Regions from separate parts of the Homo sapiens genome. Here region 2 is linked to region 1. A link means that fine-mapping ties the variant in region 1 to the expression of a gene that starts in the linked region. Tissue or cell type: whole blood. Region 1 holds a variant in brackets; the other region holds the start of a gene. All regions are shown on one strand. Distances are between the middles of the regions.

Region 1 (2,680 bases):
CCTCAGTGAGGACGTAGCCTGCTCTGCTGGGAGGTGGCTGCAGGGATGTGGGGAGGATGGAGGGCGGGGCTGCGCCAGCTCATCTCGCCTCCACCTGGGCTGAGCCTAGTAGGGGTGAGAGGGCTCTGGCTGCAGTGACTCCCAGGAACTAGACAAACGAGACCAGAGACTGACCGGGGACGTTCTCTCGGTGGCCGCATGGTGGGAAACTGGAGCCTCCCCTGCTGTCTCGCCTTCCTCCTCTTGAGGCCTAAGGAAGACACAGTCTCTCTTTAGAAACAAGCACCCCTCTGAGGCCAGTGCCTCCTGCGAGGCCTGGCTTTTCACCTGCGCCCACAGGGAGGAGCACCAAATAGCTCCCCCTCCAGTCAGCCGGCAGCCTGGATGGTGCTTGGCAAGGAGCCGCCCAGCGACTTCTTCGGAAAAGCCAAGGCAGATTCTTCAGAAGGGAGCCAGGTTCCAGGCAGAACGGCCTGTGGGGCCCCGTGTTCAGGTGGCTCCGAGGTGGGGCCTCGCCTGGCAGCCACTGCTCCCAGCCCCCTCCTCCCGCACCAGGCCTTCAGCCCGCCTGTGACTGGGGAAGCAAAAGGTCCTCTGCGCTCATGCTCAGGCACTCTGGGCCTTCCTGACGAGGGTGCCCAGTGTGAGAAGTCAAATGCAACTGGTCCCAATGTCAGGTTTCTGATGAAAGGCACCCCCTACTCCCACTTGGCAGAGCATTCAGCTCCCTGGACACACGGCCACCACTCACCCAGTCTCCTCTGCGGGTCTCTCTGCAATCTGGCGTTCTTTCAGCTCAAGCTAGAGGAGGAGAAGGCCCAGGGGTCAGAGCAGCCACAGAGGCGAGTTGTGTTCTCAGACGATCTCCCTCTGGATGCGGCCCTGCACCCCCACATGCCCTGACACTTGTTCCTTCTAGAGTCAGCCCCTTCTGTCCTTTGCATTCGGAGGTCAGTACTTCCTGCCACTTGTCTTTCCTTCCCATTGTCGCTGCTGGCCAAGCCTGTCACACCATTCTAAGTACCTAACAACTGGCCTGGAGTCCTTACATGAGACCCCTGGGGGCACAGTTGCCACCCTCCTGAGCCTCCCAGCACTGTTCCCTGCTCACCGTGGTGGGCTTCTCCAGGGCAGCAAAGCGCTCTGCCCAGCTGGCCGTGGACTTCTCAAAAGCCTCATGCCTCTTGATGAGCTTCTCCACACTGTCCACTGTGTGTCCAAAGTCCCCGCTGGCCAGGTAGGGCTCCTGGGCAATCAGCCACGCCTCAGCCACAGAGGCATCCCTCGAGAACTGGCACACCTCCAGCACTGCCAG[G/A]GGGAACAGGACACAGACCCCCCACAAGGCCCAGGGCCTGTTAGCACCCAATCGTTCACTCCTGATTGGGGCCAGTGGTCAGGCAGGTGGCCTGAATAGGTGTCCCTAAACCACATGGATACGCTTGCTGCCTGCAGCCACCCCATTCCACACTGGGCCCCTAACCGATCTTCACAATAGTTATATTTTTTTAGAGGGAGGGCTTCAATCTGTCACCCAGGCTGGAGTGCAGTGATGTGATTATGGCTCATGGCAGCCTCAGCCTCCTGGGTTCAAGTGATCCTCCCATCTCAGCCTACCAAGTGGCTGGGACTATAGGTGTGCACCACCATGCCCAGCTAATTTTTTCTGTCGTTGTAGATAGGATCTCCCTATGTTGCCCAGGCTGGTCTCAAACTCTTGAGCTCAAGCAATCCTCCTGCCTTGGCCTCCCAAAGTGCTGGGATTATAGATGTTACCCACCATGCCTGGCCCAATAGTTATATTTTTTAAGCTATATTTTTCACTAATTAGAACTCTATTTTGAAAACAAAATGTATTTTAGATGTCTCTGAAAAGGAGTCTTCTGTGTTGAACATTCTTCCCAGCCCTTGGCTGTCTCACATGATGCTGGATGAGTGGCCAGGGGCACCAGTTGGCCCTTCTTGGCTCACAGCTCCTCCCTGAATGGTGGCTTTTCCCCACCTCTCATCAGCACCCAGCTGAAGGACGAAGAGCCGGTTCTGTGCTTGACATTCCTCATGAGGAATGTCTGGGATTCCTCAGAGCCTTACCCCAACCCCTCTCCCAGACCCCCAACTCCTCCCCCGGACCCTCAACCCCTCCCCCAGGCCCCCAGCCCCTCCCCCGGGCCCCCAACTCCTCCCCCAGGCCATAGCTCTGCAGGCATACCAGCCCGGGCATGAGGCTGGGGACAAGTGCGGCAGAGGATGGGCAGGGAGTGGGGGCACGCTGGCTAGTTAGAGTGAGGCTTCCAGCAGCGTGTCTACTCTGGCCTTCTGCCTGGACCGCTGAGGCCCCTGGCCCCAGAGCTTTGCTGAAGAGCAGTGCTGTGGGGGGCTCCTCTCTAGGCAGTAGTGAAAATCCACCCATTGTGGCACCTCCCCATTCCCCTACTCCTGCGGGGGTACTCCTGCCCCTGGGCCCTGGCTCCAGGGCTGTACTCACACATGCGGAGCCGCTCCCAGCGGGCTTCCCACTTCTCATTCATCTCTTTCCTCCTGGACATCACCTGCTGCAGTTTCTCGCGGATCTATGGGGAGGAAAGGGAGAAAAGCTCAGGCTTGGCTCACCCTTCACCATCTGAGGCAGTGCGCAGATGGGTCCTGCAAAGAATGCCAGGTTTGGTCCTACAGCCCTGGCTTC
Region 2 (2,680 bases), 110 kb after region 1:
CTGCCTCCTACCTGGAGGTGACAGCCTAGTCTCTCCCCACAGAAATTCTCAGTACAAAAAGGCTGTCACTATATCCCCCCACCCCACCCCCCAATCTGATGCATCTAAAATTTAGATGTACAAAAAACAGTGGCTTCTTTTCATTTTCCTTACTCCTGGCTGGCGCCTCTAATTGCTCACTGAAAACAGTGGTTTGGATATTAATAGGCTGTAACTCAAGGCCCTACCTGAAGCTCGTTGTCAGGGAAACAGCACTCCAGCCCCGCAGCTGCTTCCCCAGCCTGGGAAGTACGGATGAGTTGGTGGGAGTTGGGGATTGTTTTACAGCTTCTGTTATTTCTCCCACTTTCTGCTATTTCTCAAGACCAAGTTAGAGGAAGAGGGGAAACTGGAGAGGAGGGTGAGGGTAGAGTAGCCCGGAGAAGCTTAGAGGAAGAGAGGAACTCTTTGGGAGAGGAAGACTAGGGGTCCTTGAAGTATGGCTTGGGGCACTAGGATCTTTCCTCCCTCGGTCTACACGGGGTCACTCTCTGGGTGGCTCCCAGCACCCGGAGGCCCGGCCCCCTCTGCTGCCCTCACCTGTCCCTCCTGCCTGGGCGCTGGGTGGCCCGAGGAGAGCGCAGCCAAGTTCCCCAGAAGAGGGATATGAGCGGCCACAAGGCTGAGAAGCCGGACAAAAAAAGGCAGAGAGCAGCGCTGCGGTCGGACGGGCTAGAGGCGCAATCCCCTTCGCTCCCAGGCCGGGGTCCTGGAGAAGGCGGACGAGAACACGCACCCCCGTCACCCTCTCCCTGCGCCCCGGGGTGACGGACTCTCCGGGATCCCGCTCTCCAAAGCTAGCACCAAGTGCCTCGGACGCCCGCGCGCGTTCCCGCGTCCCGGGATGATCTTTGCCGCAGCTGCCGGGCTTCCCGGGCCCCGCACCCCTCCCACCCCACGCCCGACAACCGGGGCTGGACTCCCACCCGGTCCTCTGGGCCCTGCGCGTCAGGCGCCCCCTGGGCCCAGCGCTCCTTTGAGCTGGCGCCGCGCGTCCCAGCCTTGCGCACCCGCACCCAGCTCCCTTGGCCGCCGGGCCCTCCTGGGACTCACCTGCCCTGGGACTGAAGCGGGGGCCACCCCGAGCCCGGGGGTGGCGGCGGCGGCGGCGCAGGGGGAGGAGGGCAGCGCGGGGCTCCTGGCACAGCGGCCGCCGGGCGCCTGGTGCTGCCGAGCCGCGGACCCGCCCAGAGATATAAATAACATTATCTGAGGAGGGACATTCCTGCCGGGGGACATCGCTGCTGCCGGGACCAGATAGTCCCGCGGCGGGGGCGGGGAGGCGGGGCCGCAGCCTCCCGCAGCGCCAAGCCCAGCCCCCGCCTTCCCCACCCACTCACGCACCTGCCAATCAGCCTCCGCGCCTGGGGGCACCTGCCGGGCCTCAGCCCGGCTCCTGGAACCCGCCTCTGCCTCCCCGCCCGCCGCTGAGCCTGGGGCGCCTCCATCGTCGTTCATTGCCCCTAACCCCGCGCCACCCCGAGCCCCCTGAGGCGGGAAGGGGGTTGGACTCTAGCTCGGGCCTAATTCGTGCGCCCGGAGAGGCAAGCCTGGTGGCGAAAATGAGCCCTCCAGCCTTTCCCGCCCTGCATCCCCACTGCACACAGTTCAGTTTTTAAAATATATGAAAAGACATTTAGGCCATAGGGTGGGCGCGGCGGGTACCCGGGAGGTGAACCCCCGCCGTGGCGGGTTTGGGAGGGACAGATTGTTCCCGGGGGCTGGTGCATTAGAAAGCGCGCTCCCGGGCGGGCTTCTCTCGGCTGGCGGTGGGAGGGCAGGGGGCGGGCACTGGGCCCGAGGGCCCCACCCCCAGCCCGAGCTCAGTGTCGCTGTTTCTGCCCGAAAACCTAGTGTAATCAGGACGAACCAGGCAAAGCTGGCGGCGCGCAGCCTGCAGTCCCAAGGAGCTCGCACATTGTAGGGACTGTAATCAACAGGCAGGCTGCCACACCTGCCCACTGGCACCTCCTGGCCGGCCCGGGTCTCCGGGCGAGTGGGGGTGCCTCACTACAAGCCTGGATGAGGCGCGGCGCAGCAGGCCAGAGGAAATACTAGAACCGATGGTGCCAAAAAGGCATCTCCGAGTTGCCCCCGGAGAGAAACTCAATAGAACACCGGCAGCTTGCAAGGCAGTACATTTTCTTGACTTTCTAACGATCAAGGTCATTGTTCAGTAAGGTTTACGTGTACGCCTTGAGGTAGCTTTCATCTCTTTTCTCCACCTGCGGTGCCTGGGATGATTTCTCACCAGCTATCAACGCAGGTAATCTCAGGTATTATGGAAATGGCCGTGGAGATTAAAAGCGCATAGATGCAGAAGAAGTTTTAACTTTTACTGATGCTGCCTGGTGTTCTTAACAAGGGAACAGTCTTACTCCTGAGTTATTTGCTTGGGATTATAATTGTGCTGTTTTCCAGAATTCACCCAGGAAAGGGGTGTTTGCCAGATGTTCGAGTTTAGTTTATATATTGAACATATGCAAAGATACTTCACTTCCTGCTGCAGTCCCACTTCTTGAGGGTGGGTATTTAGACACTGAGATGTGCTGAGTGGGACAAACGCCCCAGGTATTACAGAGCCACAGAATTCTTCACTCCACCCTCCTCTTGGCTGGATCCTTATTACAGCTCAATTTTC

The links. PIP is the estimated chance that this variant, and not a neighbour inherited with it, causes the effect.
Region 2: SPTB starts here. The variant in region 1 is fine-mapped to the expression of SPTB in whole blood (TOPMed, PIP 0.97).

The regions. Positions count from the first base shown.
Region 1 is chr14:64,766,552-64,769,231 of GRCh38, forward strand. SPTB (spectrin beta, erythrocytic) reads right to left here. Exons shown (of 36, transcript NM_001355436.2): 29 at 2,483-2,567; 30 at 1,112-1,308; 31 at 752-801; 32 at 175-250. Among named protein-coding and RNA genes, the nearest start is that of MIR7855, 18 kb to the right of the region's middle. RefSeq lists an enhancer at 1-734. The variant G/A (reference allele first, on the strand shown) is at 1,316.
Region 2 is chr14:64,878,700-64,881,379 of GRCh38, forward strand. SPTB (spectrin beta, erythrocytic) reads right to left here and starts at 1,208. Exons shown (of 36, transcript NM_001355436.2): 1 at 1,093-1,208. LOC105370534 (a long non-coding RNA gene) reads right to left here. Exons shown (of 3, transcript XR_943942.3): 3 at 2,182-2,680. RefSeq lists silencers at 1,319-1,488, 1,539-1,678, 1,749-1,828.